Linked DNA regions of Homo sapiens. The protein of the gene in region 3 interacts with the protein of the main gene of each other region in a biochemical or structural test. Each region holds a gene or a part of one and is shown on either strand. Other genes may lie near its edges.

Region 1 (7,000 bases), on a different chromosome or scaffold from region 3:
TTACCAAAAGGCCCTAAAACATTTATTTTGGCATTAATGTGCATTCTAAGGAGAAAGAATATTAAAATATTGTCTAAGCTATTCTATTTTCATTAGATTTAGACTATGTGAGCAATTCAGAAAAAAAATGTTGGAATATTGACTCTTTCTGTAAAGCTAACATAAATGGATGTCTAATCTCTTGGAATGTCATTATCTTTCCTACTATAAGCTTTACAGTAATACTTAACATATTAATATTTAAGAGCTAACAAACCTTCTTAAGTCATTTGACTTTTAAAATTAATTTGGCCTTCATTTTGGAGTGATACCAAGGTTTGTATTGTGCTGTACAGTGTTCACTTAAAATCTTCACACTTTAAAAATGCCTATTGTATTCAGAAGCTGTGCTTGGAAAATATCAATGTGTTCTCTTCATCTTCAATAATCCCAGCTCCCTGAATTTCAGTGCATTCTGCATATTCATCTACCTGAAGAATCTTCTAAAATCATGTTTTTTCTTTGTTTGTTTGCTTGTTTGTTTTTTGAGACAGGGTCTCACTCTGTTGCCCAGGCTGGAGTGCAGTGGCATGATCTCGGCTCACTGCAACCTCCACCTCCTGGGTTCAAGTGGTTCTCCTGCCTCGGCCTCCCAAGTAGCTGGAATTATAGGTGTGTGCCACCACGCCTTGCTAATTTTTGTATTTTTAGTAGAGACAGGGTTTCATCATGTTGGCCAGGCTGGTCTTGAACTCCTGACCTCAGGTGATTCGCCTGCCTCAGCCTCCCAAAGTGCTGGGATTACAGGCGTGAGCCACCGCGCCCAGCCCTAAAATCATTTTTTATATTAAAGCAAAGTGTAACCCTGTTTTTCACCAAGATTAAGTTTGTACTCCTCAACCTGTCATTTGTCCAGTGTTGATCTCCTTTAAGGAGATCTGGTGTTTCCTCAGTGCCTTCCCAAGCACCATGCTTTTTTCAGCTTCATCATACTGTTGCTTTTTACACCTTCTTCCTCCAAGACAGCTAGAGTGCTGCTTCTCTAATCTGAGCCTGTCAGTCCCACCGAGGTCCTACTCAGGTCTTCTTCCTTCATAAGACTCTGCCCCAACCACTCCAGCTCACCTTTATCTCTACCTTCTCTTCATTTCTCTAGAACTTACTCTGTATCACAAGGTGCATACTTCTTTTTTGCTTTTATTTTTTGAGACATGGTCTTGTTCTGTCACCCAGGCTGGAGTGCAGTGGCATGATCACAGCTCACTGTAATTGAACTCCCTGGAACTCCCGGGCTCAATTGATCCTCCTGCCTCAGCCTCCTGAGTAGCTGGGACTACAGGCGCACACGACTATGCCCAGATAATTTTTTTCGTATTTTTTTGTAGATAGGGGGCTTCCTCATGTTGCCCTGCTGATCTCAGACTCCTGGGTTCATGGTTTCCACCTGCCTCAGGCTCCCAAAGTATTGGGATTACAGGCGTGAGCCACTGCTCGCAGCCAAGACGCATACTTCTTATGTGCTGGTTTTGTTGTTGTCTAAATGCTCATATGTAGGTGTTTTTCTTGGAAAGGGGTGGTGGAAGTGACCTTAGCAGGACTTGGTCTTTATGTACACAAAGTTCCTAATTTCAAGTCTCTACTTGCCCTGGCTTTACTTTAAAAAGTAAATTTTAAACAGACATTTTAGTCAGCATACAGTGTTGAGGATTAGCAATCACTTAATTTTCTTGGCCTTTGCTGAAGTGCCATGAGATACCCAACATGAAATTTTGTCTTTCATACTATTAGCACATACCAAAAGATTGCAAGTAAAAATACAATGAAAATAGTCTCATACAATGGATCCCCTTAGGGACCCACGTGTTCACTAATGCAGCCTCAAGACTCTGTCTTTATGTCGATAGGATTCTAAGCTTAAATCAGTCATGATGTTATGACATTATCAGTGTTACAGTCACCTGGGCAGCTTTTACAAATACTACTGTCTGGGCTCTAGCCCCCTGGATATTCTGATATAATTAGATTGTGATGCTCATTTCTGAGCAAAGTGTATTTAGGCCTTTCTATGATAGATTAGGGGATTGCTTTTTTTTGGCTTGCAGATTTTATCCAAAATAACCATGTTTCCAGAATTTTGGTGCTGTTGTCTTTTATGGGGCTACTAAGTAGTTTTCTTGAAACTGTCAGGCTGAACCAAGTGCTAATACTCTTGTAGCACTTTGAGTATAGTGCCTTCATATCATATGGAATTCTGCTCAGGTTCTGTGTCTGGATGCCGCACTCCTTGAGGAAAAGGCCTGTGTGTCTTAGTAATATTTGCAGTCTTAGTGCTTAGTGTAGTGTTTTACTCATACTTGAAGAAAATGTGATTATTAAATGAATGACAGCAAGGGAAAGACTAACCTAGATTACAAAGTTGATAAACATGCAGTTATTATGTTTGAAAATAAGAGATATTTTTCCGTAAATTTTTGTTGTTGTTTTTTGAGCAGAGTCTTGTTCTGTCACTGAGGCTGGAGTGCAGTGGTATGATCTCCGTGCACTGCAACCTCCGCCTCCTGGGTTCAAGTGATTCTCGTGCCTCAGCTTCCTGAGTAGCTGGGACTACAGGCGCACACCAACATGCCCAGCTAATTTTTGTATTTTTAGTAGAGATGGGGCTTCACCATGTTGGCCAGGCTGATCTGAACTCGTGAACTCAAGTGATCCACCTGCCTTGGCCTCCCAAAGTGCTGGGATTATAGGCGTGAGCCACCAAGCCCAGCCCTATAAAACTTATTTCATATACATACATGCATACATTATATATATATATATATATATATATATTTTTTTTTTTTTTTTTCTTTGAGATGGAGTTTCATTCTTGTTGCCCAGGCTAGAGTGCAATGGCACGATCTCGGCTCACTGCAACCTCCCCTTCCCAAGTTCAAGTGATTTTCCCGCATCAGCCTCCCAAGTAGCTGGGATTACAGGCATGCGCCATCATACCTAGCTAATTTTGTATTTTTAGTAGAGACAGGGTTTCTCCATGTTGGTCAGGCTGGTCTTGAACTCCCGACCTCAGGTGATCCGCCCGCCTTGGCCTCCCAAAGTGCTGGGATTACAGGCATAAGTCACTGCACCTGGCCTATTTCCTATGTTTTTGAGAATTGTTATCTGACTGAACTGCTGATATAAAAGATGTATATTACACATTATTTAGATTTGTTATTGACAAATCCTATTGGAAATAACTGTTAACCACATTATTAAGGTTCTTCTGAAATGCCAATTTGAAATGTCTATGATAAATGTTACTTATTATTTCTATAAGTACTATTAATTTGTTTCAAAATTACTTTTTTTTTTTTTCCAAGATGGAGTCTTGCTCTGTCACCCAAGTTGGAGTGCAGTGGTGCAATCTTGACTCACTACAGCCTCCGCCTCCTGGGTTCAAGGAGTTCTCCTGCCTCAGCCTCCTGAGTAGCTGGGACCACAGGCGCCCCCCACCACACCTAGCTAATTTTTCCTTATTTTTAGTAGAGACAGGGTTTCACCATGTTGGCCAGGCTGGTCTCAAACTCCTGACCTTGTGATCCACCCACCTCAGCTTCCCAAAGTGCTGAGATTATAGGCGTGAGCCACCACGCCTGGCCTTCAAAATTACCTGTTTAAAATAGAAAATAATTTCATTATTATTTCTTCTGTTGCATTGATTTATTTAAAACACTTTCTAAAAAGTTCTTACCCTTAGATAACAGTTAATATGTTTTTTAGGAGTGTACCCATTTTTAGCATTACTCAGTTTTGAAAAGTATTTGTACAGCAAGTGTTTGATTAAATTGCAATTTGATGTCTTTGGAATAGTGGTTCAGTGTAGCAGGTGAGCTCTGTGACTAGTTTGCTGCATCTACCAGTTTAAGCAGCTTGTGTGATGGTTAGCAAGTTATAAACAGGTACATATTTTTTTCCTGGAAACAATTTATTAAGAGATAAAAGATGTCTCTCAGCTTTGTGTACAATTCATTGTTCTTAGTCTTTCTCCAGTTTACACACACATACACAAAGACTGTCACAGGAGAAGGACAAGCTGTCAGTCTGACATACATGCATTAAATTCACAATCTCAATATTTTACAGCCCATCTCAGGCTTCAATAAAGTGAATGATTCATTTCATAATTATATCCTAAATAGAAGATGGAGTAAAGAAAAGGTCAACATATGGGAAATGGAGGATAACTCTAAAAACAGAAGTTATGGACCTCTACGTAAAAGATGGGGAGGTGAGGTGGCGCCATGGATTCCTAACTCTTAAAATTAAAGCTTTTGCTCTTTTCCATATTACATGCTAGCATGGGAGTAAGGATGAATTGCTTTTATCTGTCTAGTGGTAAGATTACTTTCAGGCTTTTCAAGTAGCATAATTTGAGTCAGATTAGGACTCAAATCATGCATTTTATAAATAGCAAGGCCATATCACTGCACCTGGTTTTCCTCCAAGTTGTCCTTATGAGATTCTTTGTCTACCTAATTTTTTCTTACAACATAAGTCATAATACTATATATAATACTCAATATAAGTCATAATACTATAGGATGATATTCTGAGATCTTTATTACAGAATATGAAATATCCTCTCTTTTCTATAAAACTGCGTAAAGGACTAATCGTAGTGAAATGATAATGGCTACCACTTACTGGAAGCTTATTCTGCCAGTCACAACATTAAGCCAGAGGTTTTTAAACTTCATTGTTTTATGGTGACCTTATTATCTCATTAAGTTGTTTTTGTTTTTGTTTTTGTTTTTGAGAGGGAGAGTTTCGCTCTTGTTGCCCAAGCTGGAGTGCAATGGTGCGATCTCGGCTCACTGCAACCTCTGCCTCCCGGGTTCAAGCAGTTCTCCTGCCTCAGCCTCCCAAGTAGCTGGGATTACAGGCATGTGGCACCACGCCCAGCTAATTTTGTATTTTTAGTAGAGACGGGGTTTCTCCATGTTGGTCAGGCTGGTCTTGAGCTCCTGACCTCAGGTGATCTGCCCACCTCGGCCTTCCAAAGTCCTGGGATTACAGGTGTGAGCCACTGTGCCTGGCCTCGTTAAGTTTTTCACAACACCCCTAGGCCACAAACAATACTTAATAGTTCTGTTTATTAAATAGTTAGGTCCAAAAAATATTTGTGTCCCAACAGCTTTTGTAGCTGTTCAAAAAAAAAAATGCAGAAAAAATAGAACATTTATTTTCTTCATAAGTAACCACAATTTACTAATGAGATGTGTGTGCTTGTTGAGCACTGAGCACTAAATAGCTTTTCTTTTTCTTTCTTTTTTTTTTTTTTTAAGATGGAGTTTTACTCTTGTCACCCAGGTTGGAGTGCAATGGCACGGTCTCGGCTCACTGCAACCTCTGCCTACGGGTTCAAGCAATTCTCCTGCCTCAGCCTCTCAAGTAGCTGGGATTGCAGGCACCCGCTACCACACCTGGCTAATGTTTGTATTTTTAGTAGAGACGGGGTTTCACCATGTTGGCCAGGCTGGTCTCGAACTCCTGACCTCAGGTGATCTGCCCACCATGGCCTTCCAAAGTGCTGGGATTACGGGCGTGAGCCACTGCTCCCAGCCTGCATAGCTTTTCAAACCTTGGAACAGAGTACACTGCCGTCCTCATTTCCTGTTCCACATTGATTTTCAAGTGACACTTGCTTTTATCACAGCAACCAGCAAAAACCCGGTTTCACTAATATATATCATCCAAGGAATGCACTGCAATCTAATATGACAACTCAAGCACCTCAGGTTAATAGTTTGGCTGGTTTCCAGCATGTGTTGAGAATCTCAGTGTTTCCTTCTGTTTAAAATATGCAGCTTCCCTGGGAGTTTGCTGTAGTGCCGTGGGGCATCTGAGCACACAGTTCAGGAGATGTGGCATTTGACACACTTTATTTCATTCAGTTCAGATTGTGCTTTTATCCACATTTCAGAGATTTGGAAACTGAGGATTGGAAAGATAACTGCCCCAATGACATAGTCCTACCATTTAATTTTTTTTTACTGTAATTATTGTTTGTGCTGTTGTGAGGCTATTGTATTACCATATATTGTGTGGCTATTATTTTCAGGGGTGGGGAATGAAGTGTAAAAATAAGGGAAGGCGTTAAGGTTAAGAGTGTAATTGGTAGCATTTTCTAATGAGGGAACTGTACACTTGTGTTTTTCCCTACAAACTATTAACATATTAATATATTAGAGGAGAAAGTATGGTTTAATTTACAGTAAAGTCATTAAAAACAAAGTTTCTTTCCTGGGCCAAGTTAAATGTCAGGTTCTAGACTTTTGGATAAATATAGTAGGTGGTAATGCCAAACAGTGTGTGTAGTTTGTTTTTTTTTTTTAATTGCCAAACGCTGTCAACATGATTGCCCTTTAGATAAGTTGCAGTGTCCTGTCTCTTTTAAAGAAAAATTTGCAAGTTGAGGGAAGAAGTGACTTTTTATAGTTGACTTTTTCAGCAGAGAAATCATGAAATTTAGACTTGTTATATATCACTTTATGTTAGGGTTGCAAAAATTCATTTTCTTTTTATAAATACCTTTGGAAGGTGCATATTTATTTTCTTTCTTTTTTTATGTGCCCCTGTAGTCTGAGGAATGTACGTATTTAATAGAAAGTAACTTAAATGTCAACTCTTTAAAAAGAAAATCAACCAAACTTTTTTATTCTGGGTTGGTAGTAGGATTGACCTAGGGTCAAACCAGTAGTTAGTTCTTAAGTGCTTTCATTTCTTCACCACTTAACTTTGCTATGAGGAAATAAAAAGGAAAGGCAGAACTTCCACTCTCACTGAATAGTAAAAACTCTGTGGCTTTTTATTACATCATCTCAGGTCTATCAGATGTTCTAACTTGTCCTATAAAATATACGTAACTCAGGACTATAACGGGAGCTTCTGACCATAGTGGAGTAACAGGAACTAGATTTACCCTCCTACCTTAAGTAACAACAACAAAATGAACAAAATACATGGAATGATTTGCAGACCT
Region 2 (7,000 bases), on a different chromosome or scaffold from region 3:
GCATGAAAACAGGATAAATTAAGTGTGTTCTGAGAGTGAACAGCAGAGGTTAGCCTCTCCGTAGTGCAGATAGACAAACTGAGCCTCAGAAAAGCAAAGCAACTTGCCCACAGCCCCACAGCTAGGTAGCAGCAAAGCTTCACTGACCTTTCCCTGTCTGGGACCTGCCAGGGAAGCCCTGGAAGTCCCCAACACAGAGAAGGCCAAGACCTATGTGGAGGGTGTCATGGGGAAGAGCTTGGGTTTGGGGGCCAGGATTCAAGTATACTCGGCTGAAGACCTTGACAGGGAATCCCAGGGGCTTCCCCAGGACTTTTCTCCATCTGGAATGGGGCATCCAGAACTGAAGTGCGCGCGCGCGCGCGTGTGTGTGTGTGTGTGTGTGTGTGTCTGTCTGACTGTCTGTCTGTGTAGGCAAGACCTGGTTTCCAATCCCAGTTTTGTCACTCCCCCTCTGAGACACTCTCTCTGGCTCTCTGAGCCTCTATTTCTTTTTTCTTTATTTGTTTTCTTTCTTTCTTTCTTTCTTTCTTTCTTTCTTTCTTTCTTTCTTTCTTTTCTTTTCTTTCTTTCTTTCCTTTCTTCTTTCTTTCTTTCTCTTTCTTTCTTTCTTTCCCTTCCTTCCTTCCTTCCTTCCTTTCTTTCTCTTTCTTTCTTTCTCTCTTTCTTTCTCTCTTTCTCTCTTTCTTTCTCTCTTTCTCTCTTTCTCTCTTTCTTTCTTTCTCTCTTAGATGGAGTTTTGCTCTTGTCACCCAGGCTGGAGTGCAATGGTGCGATCTCAGCTCACTGCAACCTCTGCCTCCTGGATTCAAGGGATTCTCCTACCTCAGCCTCCCAGGTAGCTGGGATTACAGGCACACACCACCACGCCTGGCTAATTTTTGTATTTTTAGTAGAGACGGGGTTTCACCATGTTAGCCAGGCTGGTCTCGTACTCCTGACATCAGGTGATCTGCCCGCCTTGGCCTCCCAAAGTGCTGGGATAACAGGCATGAGCCATAATCGTGCCTGGCCTCTGAGCCTCTATTTCTGCATCTGTAAAATGGAGACAATGGTGATCAGACCTGTTTCATAGGATTGTTGTAAAGGTTCAGGGAGATACTGTGTGGGGGCACCTAGTGAGCATGAGTGCTAGAACTTGAGAATGACCTTAAAGGAGGCTTTAAACCCAGAGGGTCCAAGGGGCAGCCCTCTGGCCACCCCTGCCTCAGACGCACGTCTAAAAATATTAAATTGGGATGGTATGGTGGTTCATGCCTGTAATCCCACCACTTTGGGAGGCTGAGGCGGGTGGATCACTTGAGGCCAAAAGTTCGACACCAGCCTGGCCAACAAGGCGAAAACCTGTACTAAAAATACAAAAAATTAGCTGGGCATGGTGGTGCACGCCTGTAGTCCCAGTTACTTGGGAGGCTGAGGCAGGAGAATTGCTTGAAACTGGGAGGCAGAGATCGCAGGTTGCAGTGAGCTGAGATCACGCCATTGCACTCCAGCCTGGGTGACGAGTGAAACTCCGTCTCAAAAAAATAATAATAATAAATAAAAATAAAAAGATTAAATTGGCCAAAAATCAGGAAATTCCAAATACAAATCCAGATTTCTGGCTTTATTGAAAATTATGCACTCATTAATTCAACTAATACATCTCTGCAAGCTCCTTCTATGAACCAGTTTTCTTGCTAGTGGCCCGGGCAGCAGTGGCAGGGCTGCCCTCCATAGCTCTCCACCTCACCACGTTCACACAGTCCCCTGGCATCCAAGTCCCTTCCTGGCCCTGTGACCATCTGTCCTCAACCCTTTCCTCACCCTTACCCCCAGCAACTGACGAACCACATCCGGGACACACTGCCGGGGCTGCGGAACAAGCTGCAGAGCCAGCTACTGTCCATTGAGAAGGAGGTGGAGGAATACAAGAACTTCCGCCCTGATGACCCAGCTCGCAAGACCAAGGCCCTGCTGCAGTGAGGCTCCCCCAGCTCCTATCACTGAATCCCCGCCCCCAGCCTCTCAGCGTGGGGCTCTCCCAGGGTTCCCTTTGCTGGGCTGCTCCTGCCCCCTCAGGCCACACCACTCTCCCACCAGGATGGTCCAGCAGTTCGCCGTAGACTTTGAGAAGCGCATTGAGGGCTCAGGAGATCAGATCGACACCTACGAACTGTCAGGGGGAGCCCGCATTAACCGAATCTTCCACGAGCGCTTCCCTTTCGAGCTGGTCAAGGTAGGTCAGGCAGCCCTGGGGACAGGATGGCTCAGGACTCCCCCCACCCTCACTCAGGACTCTCTCTGCGTGTGTTTTTGCTGGCCCCCACCCCACAGGCCCTGATGCCCAGCCCTAGGTGTGGGGTGGGCCCTGTCTTGACCTCCCAGGTAGTAGGACAGGCCCTGACCAGGCTTTTCTCTGCTTTTCTACACAGATGGAGTTTGATGAGAAGGAACTCCGAAGGGAGATCAGCTATGCTATCAAGAATATCCATGGCATTAGGCACGTATTGGGGCCTGGGAGGGTGGCTGAACCCCAGAAGTAGGGGGTCTGGGACAGAGGCACAGGGAGTGATGAAGTGGGCCTCCCTCAGGAAGGACTGAAAGCTCTGTTCCCCAGTCCTCTCGACCCCAACTTTCTGGCTCCCTGCATGACAGGCTCCAGCTTGGGGAGGTGGACCCGGGCCACCCCGCCTACTGCAACTTGCTGGGCCAACTGGGCACAGCCCAGGGCGCAGGTGGCCGGGGAAACACCCTCTGGGGCTGGGCCCATCCCCAGGGTGAGATAGCTCCCCCAGTGCCACCCAGGTAACCGGACAAAGATGTCCAAACCACTACGAGGGCCTGGGGTGGAGCATCTAAGTATGAGGCTGTGTCCTTTTATGACGGCCGGGGACTTTGCAATCCTCCACACCCTCCTGTATTCACAGTAGCCCAGAGTCAGTCCCATTCCACCCCACCGCCCTCCTTCTAGGCAACCCGTGGAGTAGGAAACAGGATTGGGAGGTGGAATCTGTTCCTTAAAAGCTTAGATCCCCTTCAGGGACCCAGATCTATGCTGTGTTCATCCAACAAATCCACTGGGCCGGAAAATTTAAAGCACCTACCCTATGCCAAGCAGTGAACAAGACCCAGTGTCCCCTTGCTCTCATGCAGGTTCATTTCCAAGATTTGGCATGGAATTTACTTCCTGATAACTGCACTGGCCAATTCACAGAAAAAAGATCTCTTTCCTAGTCTTAAAACAAAACACTCTATTCCTGGAAAGGCTCTTATGGAGAACCACGTTTGGCAATTTTCAAGCCATTTCTGGCCATAGAACTTCCTATATGCACAGACCCTTACGAGGAAGCAGGACTTACATATCAGATACTCAACCACCTTGTCTTGCCCCAAAGAGCCTCATTAGGGCCGGGCGCGGTGGCTCACGCCTGTAATCCCAGCACTTTGGAAGGCCGAGGCAGGCGGATCATGAGGTCAGGAGATCGAGACCATCCTGGCTAACACGGTGAAACCCTGTCTCTACTAAAAATACGAAAAAATTAGCCGGGCGTGGTGGCAGGCGCCTGTAGTCCCAGCTACTTGGGAGGCTGAGGCAGGAGAATGGCGTGAACCCGGGAGGCGGAGGTTGCAGTGAGCCAAGATTGCGCCACTGCACTCCAGCCTGGGCGACAGAGCAAGACTCCGTCTCAAAAAAAATAACAACAACAACAAAAAACCCTTCATTAGAACCCCTCCCTCCCATTTTACAACTGGGGACACTGAGGCCCAGAGAGGGGTAGTGGAAGGGCCCCTCAGGCAGAGTTCGTGGGCTTGGGGAGGAGCCTCGGCCTGGCCCTCCTGGCCGGCACTGGCCTGTGACACTCTGCCCTTCTCCCGCTCCGGGCGTTCAGAACGGGGCTGTTTACCCCAGACATGGCCTTTGAGACCATTGTGAAAAAGCAGGTGAAGAAGATCCGAGAACCGTGTCTCAAGTGTGTGGACATGGTTATCTCGGAGCTAATCAGCACCGTTAGACAGTGCACCAAGAAGGTAACCCGGAGGCCCGGGCCAGCCCCCACCGCCTCTGCCCCGCCCTGCACTGCTGCCAGGCGCTCCTTCCCCATGTCCCCCCCTGCCTCCTCGGTAGCATGTACAGACCTCAGCGGGGTGGGGAGGCAGGCCACCACTGAATAGGAGACAATGTGCCTCTGAGAGGGCCTCACCCACCCCTGGCCCCCAGGTCTGGGGACCCAGGGATTGGACATGGGTGAGACGGGGATGATGGCTGGCTGTTTACCCCAAGAGCCCACCAAGAGCTCCCCCAGCTCAGAGAATAGGGCTTGAGGGGACCCTGAGCCCCCTCCCTGTCCTCGGAGGTGTCATCTTTGGGAGCTCCAGGGAGGGGTCTGGGGAAACCTTAGCCTTGGAGACAGGTGAAATGCAGGGCCTTCTCGGGCACTGCTCGGTGGGCCTGGGTGGCCAGAGGGGGTGCAGAGGACCCAGGACTAGCAGGTGCCCTGGCTCCCCGCTGTCCTTCATCCTCCCCATACTCATCTCACCCTCACTCAGGACCCTCACACAGGATGCTCACGTAAGACCCTCACTCAGGGCCTCTCCCTCCCTTCCATCCACATCTGGCTTTCCAGGGATAGAGCCCTTCTCCCATCTGCCCCACCATCCAAGCCTCACAGAAGCACGCAGGGAGGCAGGACAGGGAGGACGGTGCCCATTTCACAGCACGAACACTGAAGCTCCAGGAGATCAAGTGGCTTGCCCAAGTCACAGTAGTCAGGAGGTGGCAGAGCTGTTACTTGAAGCCACGGCTCTGGACTCCAAGTCCAGTGCTCCTCGATTCCACCCTCCAGCCTCCCTTCCTTTCCTCTCCCCACTGCTGTCCCGGCCCCTCTCTATCACTACCTCTACTCTTTCTGTCTTTCCTCTTCTCTTTCTGTCTTTTGGTTCCACCAAACCCCTGTGGAGGAGAGGCCAGGAATGCCCCTTGAAGAGAAAGGGAGGGGCGGGACTAGAGCAGGGAGCTGGAGAGGGAGGTCAGGCTGCTATACTGCAACCCTAGGAGGCAGCCTCTGCGCCACGGTTTACGGGAATGGACCCCCCTGGAGTTGTGCAGTGCATGGCCTGGGCAGCTGGATGCGGCAACCCTAGAGATAGGGAATGGTACTGAGGTTTGGAGTCAGGATGAAGCAAATTCTGGGACACTGGGAAACGTAGAATTGAACAGGATGGGTGGATGAGGTCCTGGCCTTGTCCTGGCCTGGGTCAGCTCCTTAGGAGAACCCAAGGCTGTGGACAAAGACGGCACTGGGAGAGAGCAGGCAGCCTCAGTGAGGCCGAGGAGCAGGGGAGCATCCCTGGGAAGAGGATCTGAACTCAATAGGGGTCTTGTACGGAGCAGGGGCTTGGTCCCTCGTACCTCTGGCCATACCTATGGAGCCCAGGGGATGCTTGGCAGCACCTGGGAGGTGCCAACCCCGGGTGGCAAGGGAGGGCCGGTCCCACGCTCACATTGTCTTCTGTTCTCTCTCTCTCTTTATCTGTGTCGATGTCTCTCTCTCTTCCCCCGTGCCCGTGCCATCCTCTCCACCCCTGGATTCCTGTCTCTGCTTGGCTTTCACCCACTTCTCCTCCCCACCCACGGCTGCTCCTCCTCCTGTCCCCACCTCCTCCCCGGGTGCAGGACGGGCCTCTTCACACCTGACCTCGCTTTTGAAGCCACAGTGAAAAAGCAGGTGCAGAAGCTCAAAGAGCCCAGTATCAAGTGTGTGGATATGGTAGTCAGTGAGCTCACAGCCACCATCAGAAAGTGTAGCGAAAAGGTATGACGGCCGCCTGGGCGGGGCTGGGCCTGGCCGTCCATTCCTTGTGGCCACAGCCTCCCGTGGGCAGAAGGATCTGCTGAGCCGGCCTCACGGCTACCCGCAGGGACCCAGCCCTAGTGTTTCCTGCCAGTTTCTAACCCTGGGTACTTGCACTCATGACCCCTCCAGGCCCCCATCCCAGAAGACTTGACTCCAACCCAAGCCTCCTTGGTGGCACCTATGCTAGTGATGAAGATGATGTTAAGGAGATGGCAGCTGTTTACTGAGCACCTACTATGTGCCAAGCACACGCTAAGTGCTTGCCCTTACTATCTGACTCAGTCCTCTCAACCACCCTAAGACGTGGGTAGTGTTGTTATTCCCATTTTGCAGATGGCAAAACAGAGTCTCAGAAAAGAGAAGCAGAGTGTGATTCAGTTTTAGGAAGGACAGAGGAAGGGGTCTGAGGTCAGGGCCTCCTGGGCAGGGGGAGCTGTCCTAGTTCCTCAAAACCAATTTGCCTGAAAGCATATTGGATTACTCACTTTACAGTAATCCGTGCGTGAGAGACAGGGGCGGTCTCTTTTGAGTTGTCTGTGACTTTTTAGATGCCTTTTTCCTATTTGTCTGCTTTTGGGCATTTTGAGGATTTTTAGCCAGGTTGTCTAAAGCAGTTCTTCCCAGGGGAGTGCGAGAGAATCAGTTGCCTGCAGGAGCTTCTCCAGCAGGCTAAATCAGAGGTGCCAGGGGTGAGCCCAGCCTCACCTATATCTGAAGGACTTCCCTATGCTGGTGGGTGGAGGCACATCCACCTTAGCATTGAGTTTCAAATAAGCATCAATCATCTCCATTCCTTTTTTTTTTTTTTTTTTTTTTTGAGATGGAATCTTGCTCTGTCGCCCAGGCTGGAGTGCAGTGGCACCATCTTGGCTCACTGCAACCTCTGCCTCCTGGGTTCAAGTATTCTCCTGCCTCAGCCTCCCGGGTGGCTGGGATTACTAGCATGTACCACCACACCTGGCTAATTTTTGTATTTTTAGTAGAGATGGGGTTTTGCCACGTTGGCCAGGCTGGTCTTGAACCCCTGACCGGAGGTGATCCACCTGCCTCGGCCTCCCAAAGTGCTAGGATTACAAACATGAGCCACCGCGCATTCTTTTTTACTGAGCAGTGTGTTGTGTAATCCTTGTATGTTGCTACATAAAGATTGGTCTCATGCCTTT
Region 3 (7,373 bases):
AATATGGGCACAGGCCCTGATCGCTGGGAGTGGGGGTGGTGGCTTCCAGAGACCTGTCTATAGCAGGGAACAAAGTGGCCCAGGAATTCCTCCAAGACCTCTGAGGACATCTTTCCTGCTAGGGAGCAGTACTCTATGGTGCTCTAACCAAGCAGGTGAAGGTCTGACGCCTGCTGGGCAAGGTCTAACCCAGGGCCAGGCCATCTGATTTCAAAGTGCTGGGGCAAGGGGGTGGGACTGTTCTCAGTGACAACTCTAAAATTCGTCTGGATTAAATCTTTCTCCAGGGTTTAACCATCATCTGGGGTGTAGAGATAGACCCTAAGTATCTATATCCCTAAACAACCACTAGGGTTGTTACTTTTTTTATTTATTTTTTGAGACAGGGTCTCACTTTGCTGCCCAGGCTGAAGTGCAGTGGCACGATCATAGTTCACTGCAGCCTTGAACTGCTGGGCTCAAGTGGTCCTCCTGCCTCAGCCTCCCAAGTAGCTGGGACTGCAGGTGCACATCACCACACCTGGCTAACTTTTTCATATTTTGTAGAGATGGGATCTCCCTATATCGCCCAGGCTGGTCTTGAACTCCTGAACTCAAGGGAACCCCTGCCTCAGCCTTCAAAGTGCTGGGATTACAGGCATGAGCCACAGCACCTGGCAGGGTCCTTACTTTTTTCTTTCCAGGGGCAAAGGTACCTGCTGGGTGTTACTGGGGACTCGTTTCTCTTTGCTCCCACTGGGCATCTCCGAACTGTGGGCAGAGAACCCTGTTTGCCACCTTGGCCCAAGCATTTGCTAAGATCATTGCTCATTCCTCGGTGGACTCTATCTACACAAATTCCACACAACCTCACCCTGCAGTACACGGACCAATAGGATTCAACAATCTGAGGCTTCTTGTCTTTTTTTTTTTTTCAAGACGGAGTCTCGCTCTGTCACCCAGGCTGGAGTGCAGTGGTGCAATCTCGGCTCACTGCAACCTCTGCCTGCCGGATTCAAGAGATTCTCCTGTCTCACCCTCCTTAGTAGCTGGGGTTACAGGCAAAAATACAAAATTTTTGTATTGTTAGTAGAGATGGGGTTTTGCCATGTTGCCCAGGCTGCTCTCAAACTCCTGGCTTCAAGTGATCCGCCCGCCTCGGCCTCCCAAACTGCTGGGATTCCAGGCATGAGCCACCGCGCCCGGCCAAATTTGAGGCTTCTTGCATTCGAAATTGCAAAGTGAAAATTTTAAATGTGCCCAGTTTTCTGGAGAGTGGATCCACAGCTTTCACCAGATTCATGAGCAGTGGGCCCTGGAGTTTCCAAAAAAAACCCTTTATCTGTCCATATCAAATGCACTTAGGCTGGGATGCAGCATTCTACTTCTGGGAATTCATCCTATAAAACTAATCCCACTGGTGAGCAAAGATATTCACTGGCTATTTATTGTAGTAATGGTAACAGAAAATTCCGGTAAACAATAGAGATATCTATCAACTGACAACTGGTTAAATAAATTATGGTATATGTCATGGAATGAAATACAATGTACCCATTAAAAAGAGCCAAGTAGGCCAGGCAGGTGGCTTACGTCGATAATCCCAGCATGTTGGGAAGCCGAAGCAGGCGGATTACTTGAGGCCAGGAGTTCGAGACCACCCTGGGGCACATGGAGAAACCCTGTCTCTGCTAAAATTACAAAAAGTAGCCGGGCGTGGTGGCGCATGCCTGTAGTCCCAGCTACTGGGGAGGCTGAGGCAGGAGAATTGCTTGAACACAGGAGGCGGAGCTTGCAGTGAGCCGAGATTGCACCACTGCCCTCCAGCTGGGGCGACAGAGCATGACTCCCTCTCAAAAAAAAAAAAAAAAAAAAAAATCCAAGAAGTGTGGAGTATGGTCTAGAGCAGTAGTCCTGGGGGACAGGAAAGGAAGGGAGGAAGGAAAGAAGAGAAGGGAGGGAGGGAGAGAGGCAAGGAGGGAGGGAGGAAGGAAGGAAAGAAGGAAGGAAGGAACGAAGGGAGGGAAGGAGGACTGATTCTAAGGGGACACACGGTGATGTCTCAAGATATTTTTGGTTGTCACGACTTGGGGGTGCTCCTGGCCCGGAGTGGGTGGAGGCCAGGGGCGCTGCTCAGCACCCCGCAGTGCCCAGGACGGCCCCACCACGGAGAACAATCCAGCCCCAGATGTCAACAGTGCCGACGGAGGGGGAGAAATCCCGCTCCAGTGTGATCTCCAAGCAATGAAAAACACAGCACACAGGATTCTGTGGCATATGCTATCACAGGGTACGTGTTTTTAAAGGAAAGGCACACACGTATCTTAGGAAAGGGACATACGGAGTCGATGACAGTCGCTTGTCTCTGGGGAGAAGGGCTGGCTGCCCGAGGAGCAGAGAGGGGAAACTGACTTCTTCCTCTACCTTTTCAACTTTGTACCTTGCCCATCCAGAGGATTTTGAACGTAACTGCTCTAGACGCAACTTTTCCCTGGCTCTGGGTTATCTGGCAAGAGTCCTGTGTCGACAGCCTCGGGACTCCTCTCTTCCCCTTCTCTCCCCGCACCCCGCCTTTGCAGCGGAGAGAAGGAGGGGAGAGGTCCGCGTCCCTGGGCAGCCCAGGGTGCCTCTCCCCTCCTCCCAGGGGCTCTGTCCCCGCTTCTGGAGCCCGCATGGCGGGCAGGGCCTGGGCCACCTCGTCGCCCCCGTCCGTCCCTTGGTCTTCCCACCTGGCAGGGGACACGCGCCAACGTCCCCACCTCGGTCCCCCCGGCCCCCTCCCGGGCCAGGTCGGGCCTGGCTCCCTCATCCGGGCAGCCCGGGGCCCGGTACTCGGCTCCCGCCTGGGCCTGCGCTCACCTGGCTCGCCTTGTAGAACTGCTTCTTCAGCCCCGCCACCGACATGCTGCCGCCCGCCGCCGAGCCTCCCGCCCGGACCGCGCCAGCGACAGGCTCCCGGGCGCCGCCGACCCTCTGCGCGCCTCAGCAGTCCCCGTCGGCGCCGCCTCCGCCACCCGCTTGCCAGCTCCGCGCCCGCCCCGGCGCCGCCTCAGCCGCTCGCGCGCCCGCGCGGCCAGGATATTACATGGCAACCGCACGCTTCCGGTGCCGGCCCCCGCGCGCGCCCCCGGCCCCCGCGCGCGCCCCCGGCCCCGTCTGCGCACGCGCGCCCTCTGCCGGCTGAAGAGCGCACGTGCACATTGTCTACCGCGGGAGAGGCCGCCTCTGTCAGTGAGTTGAGCGGGGCGAGCCTAGAGGGGCCGTAGCAGTTGCAGCGCCCCCTGGAGTCGTGGAGGTGACCCTAACGTCTTGGAAAACGCGCTTAGTTTAAACCTGGCCAGGGAGGTTGGGAAGTAGAAGGGGCCCCTGCTTACGATTCTTCAGATTCCTGTTTACTCATCTTAGCTAAATCCAGTTCGTCTAAGTGTTCAGCCCCCTCCCATTTTTATTTATTTATTTATTTTTTTTTTGAGACGGAGTCTTGCTTTGTCTCCCAGGCTGGAGTGCAGTGGCGTGATCTCGGCTCACTGCAACCTCCGCCTCCCGGGTTCAAGCGATTCTCCTGCCTCAGCCTCCCAAGTAGCTGAGATTACAGGCGCGCACCACCATGCTAGGCTAATTTTTGTATTTTTAGTAGAGACAGTGTTTCGCCATGTTGGCCAGGCTGGTCTCGAACTCCTGACCTCAGGTGATCCAACCCCCAACCCCCCCACCAAATCCAGCCTCCCAAAGTACTGGTCTCACAGGTATGAGCCACCGTGCCCGGCCACCTCTCTTCCTCTCTCTCTCTGTCCTGTGTTCATCCATTCAGTTGCCCACGTGACACATCTAGACATCTAGGTCTGTCTTCATGCCTTGACCATACTTTCCACCAGTCCTCCCCTCCAATTCTTCCTTGTCATGGCAGCCAGAAAGATGCTTCTAGAATGCAATTCAGGGCCAGGGGCGGTGGCTCACGCCTGTAATCCCAGCACTTTGGGAGGCCTAGGTGGGCGGATCACGAGGTCAGGAGATTGAGACCATCCTGGCTAACACGGTGAAACCCTGTCTCTACTAAAAAATAGAAAAAATTAGCCGGACGTGGTGGCGGGCGCCTGTGGTCCCAGCTACTAGGGACTCCGTCTCAAGAAAAAAGAAAGAAAGAAAGGAAGGAAGGAAGGAAGGAAGGAAGGAAGGAAGGAAGAAAGAAAGAAAGAAAACCTGTTTCTACACTCACAGGCTGACACTGAAGTTCTCTGTTTTGTGTGAGGCTTTTAATCTGCTTGATCTACACAGTTCAATCAAATATTTATACATTCACTCAAACATTTATTGACCTGGTAAATATGATCAGTTACTAACAGGTCCTGGGGTTCCAGTGAGGAATGAGTCCTACCCTCGCCAGAACTAATGACAAAAGGCAGAAATTAATTCATTAGTCAAATAACAAACTAATAAATAGACACAGCTGTAATTGCTTTAAGGAAAAGAACAGTGTTGTAGGCACTTGATATTGTCAGGGTTGGGGAAGAAAAGGCTTCCTGGGGTGACGATCTAAGATCTGAAAAGTATAAATTAGCCAGGAAAAGAGCTGCGAAAAGATTGTTCTAGGCAGAGAAAACAGCATGTGCCAATTTCCTGAGGATTAAACCAGAAACGATCCATTTCGTCCATTTCGTTCACTCATTCTACATGTTATTTACTGAATGTCAAATACTTCCGAAGCGCTCCCCAGACTTCGTTTTATTGTTCTTGTAGAAAGCAATTTATAATTTTAATTGCTGTTGCTATATTTAGCCGATGTCCCATTAGGATAAACTCAAAACTCCAGGTTCCTCATCTAAATCCCACTTTCAAGTTGTCATCTGCGCCTTGCGTAAAATGTTCTGGTGACGTAAGAGCCTGGGCCTCCCTCCTCTTAGGGACTATCCCACGCGATCAGCCAGTCGCAGCGCAGAGCAATGAGCTTGACACCTCCTTCCTCCAATCGCAGGGCAGCTCCTCCCAGCCAATGACAGGCCTCCGAGGGGAAGCCCAGTCCCTCGCGGATATGTCAATGGGCGAGCCCTGGGAGGAATGGAAGTCACGGATCTCGCGAGGATGCCCCCGGCGCCCCTCAATTCCCGAGGCGGGCCGTCACGTGACCCGGGCTCGCCCAATTGGCGCGCGGACTGCGGGGGTCGCCGCGGTTCCCGCCAAATACGAGCGCGGCGGCCGCGGCGGCAGCAGCGGCGCGGGCGGGAGGGCGAAGAGCAGCGGCCGCCTGAGGGGAGCCCGCGCCTCCGCCGCCTGAGAGGAGGTCGAGCTGCCGCCGGGGCGATGCTGGAGGAGCTGGAGTGCGGGGCGCCCGGCGCCAGGGGAGCCGCCACAGGTCGGTTCGGGCCCGCGCCGAGGGGAAGGGGGGGCGCGGCGCGCGGCCTGGACGGGCCGAGGCGGCGATGGGAGGCGGACGGGCCTCCGGGCGCCAAGCCTGGTCCTGCGGGCCGGGCGTTCACCCCCTGGGGCCTTCTCATCCCCAGCGAGGGCCTGGCGTCCCCAAGGGCACCCTTGTTGACGTTATTGTTGTAGCCGCGACCATATTGTTTGTTTCCGGCGCTTTTGCGTCAGTTCGTCCCTCCAGGACTCTCTGGGGCGGTGGGTCGGAGGGGCCGAGAGGGGAAACTGAGGCCCAGGGAAGCGAAAGGGCTTGCCCTGCAGGTTACTGGATGCGTTTGTGTCCCTTGACCATGTTGGACCTTGCAGCGGGTGGGGAAACTGAGGCCCAAGGTCGCACGGGCTCGGGGACCAGTACCGATGCCGCTGAGGGTCGGGGTAAGCCCGGGTAAGAAGAGGCCCAGATGGTAGAGATGGCCAGGAGGGTGGGACTCCCGAGTTCTTGCTCCTTCCTGATATGCACCGTGACTTCCTCCTCCGTGTGCCTTGGAATGGGGTCTTTGGAGCCCACCACAGGCCTCCTGAAACGTGGGAGGGTGAACCAAGGAAGACCAGACTGTCCCTCTCCCTTGCTGGACTCTGCATTACATAACGCTTTGGCAGCACTTGGCATTACGCTTTGGCACATAGTAGGTGCTCAGTAAATAACGTGAACGAATGAAGGGCTAGAATGGACGCCAGTCCAGTTTCTCAGCCTCAGCAGTGTTGATATTTGTTGCCGTCCTGGGCACGGCACTGCAGGGTGTTAAGCATCATCCCTGGCCTCCGCCTTTTGCAGGCCAGTAGCAGCCCCTCTCACCATGCCTTAGTAACAGCCAGAAATACCATTGCCCTGTGTCCCCTATGGGGCAGATTCCGCCTTGGCTGAAAATCATGGCTGTAGTTCCTTCTAGCCTGTGGGATTTCCCGGAGACATAAAATTAATATAAAGTTGGTACTGTCGTGGAGCTGTGATGTTTTAAGTCAGGATGTTTAACTTTATTTATTTATTTATTTTGAGACTGAGTCTTGCTCTGTTGCCCAACCTCTGCCTCTCTGGTTCAAGCGATTCTTCTGCCTCAGCCTCCCAAGTAGCTGGGATTACAGGCCTGCACCACCATGCCTGGCTAATTTTTGTATTTTTTAGTAGAGACGGGGTTTCACCATGTTGGGCAGGCTGGTCTCGAACTTCTGACCTCAGGTAATCCACCTGCATTGGCCTCCCAAAATGCTGGGATTACAGGCATGAGCCACCATGCCTGGCCAGGATATTTAACTTTAAAAAAAAAAATCGCTACTCGCTAGGACCATGCTATCATGAAAGGAAAGTATATTTTAGTGCCAAATAAAATTAGAAAGGATGTAATCGCAGAATAAAGAGCAGTTAGTAACTTTATACACACATATGTGTTAATCGTGTGTATCTTTGGATCTCTGGATTGGGAGTGTCCCGTTTTATATACAAGATTTTTTAATGAGGGTGGGTCCTGTTTTTAATGAGGTTGTTTCTGTTCCACTTGCACCAAAGCTAGTGACTCAAAGCCACACAAATAGATTTTTGTGATTGTCTCGAAAATAAAGTTAAGTGACTAAAAATCATATCCTTCAGTTAGGGGGTAGAAATCCATGGCTTTTGGTAAGTGGACACTTGAGAATGATACTGTCTTTATTTCTTTGAAGTGGCTAGAAAGGAAACATGAATTTTCTCAGTACCTTTTCTTATTCACTAAGCTTGGGGCGGTGGGTGAGGGGTGGTTTCATGTATGGACGATGGAGTTTTTTAGGAAGCCCCAGTCTGCTTTTAAAAAGTACTCACTTTTATGTAATGCTTACAAAACATACGTAGATTAACCAAAATAACTAAACTAGGTTTTGCCAAGCCAGATCTCCTGGTAAGTGTGAGCTTCCTAAACTTACTCTGTTTAAGGTATTTATCTAAAGACTCGCTTCTATTTATGATCACTGCTGCATCTGCTTTGATATTATTAGATGGTTTCTTGAGA

The links. Proteins that work in one complex are often made in the same cells at the same time.
Region 1: the proteins of SH3GL1 (region 3) and SYNJ1 interact in a test that uses a peptide from one of them, tested with the Homo sapiens proteins (one study listed by BioGRID and IntAct).
Region 2: the proteins of SH3GL1 (region 3) and DNM1 form a complex in vitro, tested with the Homo sapiens proteins (2 studies listed by BioGRID and IntAct, with this or other methods).

Annotation. Positions count from the first base shown.
Region 1 is NC_000021.9:32,718,014-32,725,013, reverse strand, and holds part of SYNJ1 (synaptojanin-1), read left to right. Parts: intron 1-7,000. UniProt on the Homo sapiens protein: Phosphatase that acts on various phosphoinositides, including phosphatidylinositol 4-phosphate, phosphatidylinositol (4,5)-bisphosphate and phosphatidylinositol (3,4,5)-trisphosphate. Has a role in clathrin-mediated endocytosis.
Region 2 is NC_000009.12:128,220,379-128,227,378, forward strand, and holds part of DNM1 (dynamin-1), read left to right. Parts: intron 1-1,818; coding exon 1,819-1,961; intron 1,962-2,082; coding exon 2,083-2,218; intron 2,219-2,414; coding exon 2,415-2,482; intron 2,483-3,872; coding exon 3,873-4,011; intron 4,012-5,656; coding exon of another isoform or gene 5,657-5,795; intron 5,796-7,000. UniProt on the Homo sapiens protein: Catalyzes the hydrolysis of GTP and utilizes this energy to mediate vesicle scission and participates in many forms of endocytosis, such as clathrin-mediated endocytosis or synaptic vesicle endocytosis as well as rapid endocytosis (RE).
Region 3 is NC_000019.10:4,397,486-4,404,858, forward strand, and holds the start of SH3GL1 (endophilin-A2), read right to left. Parts: upstream 3,063-7,373; 5' UTR 2,884-3,062; coding exon 2,839-2,883; intron 1-2,838. Other genes in the region: CHAF1A (chromatin assembly factor 1 subunit A), read left to right, coding at 5,278-5,329. UniProt on the Homo sapiens protein: Implicated in endocytosis. May recruit other proteins to membranes with high curvature.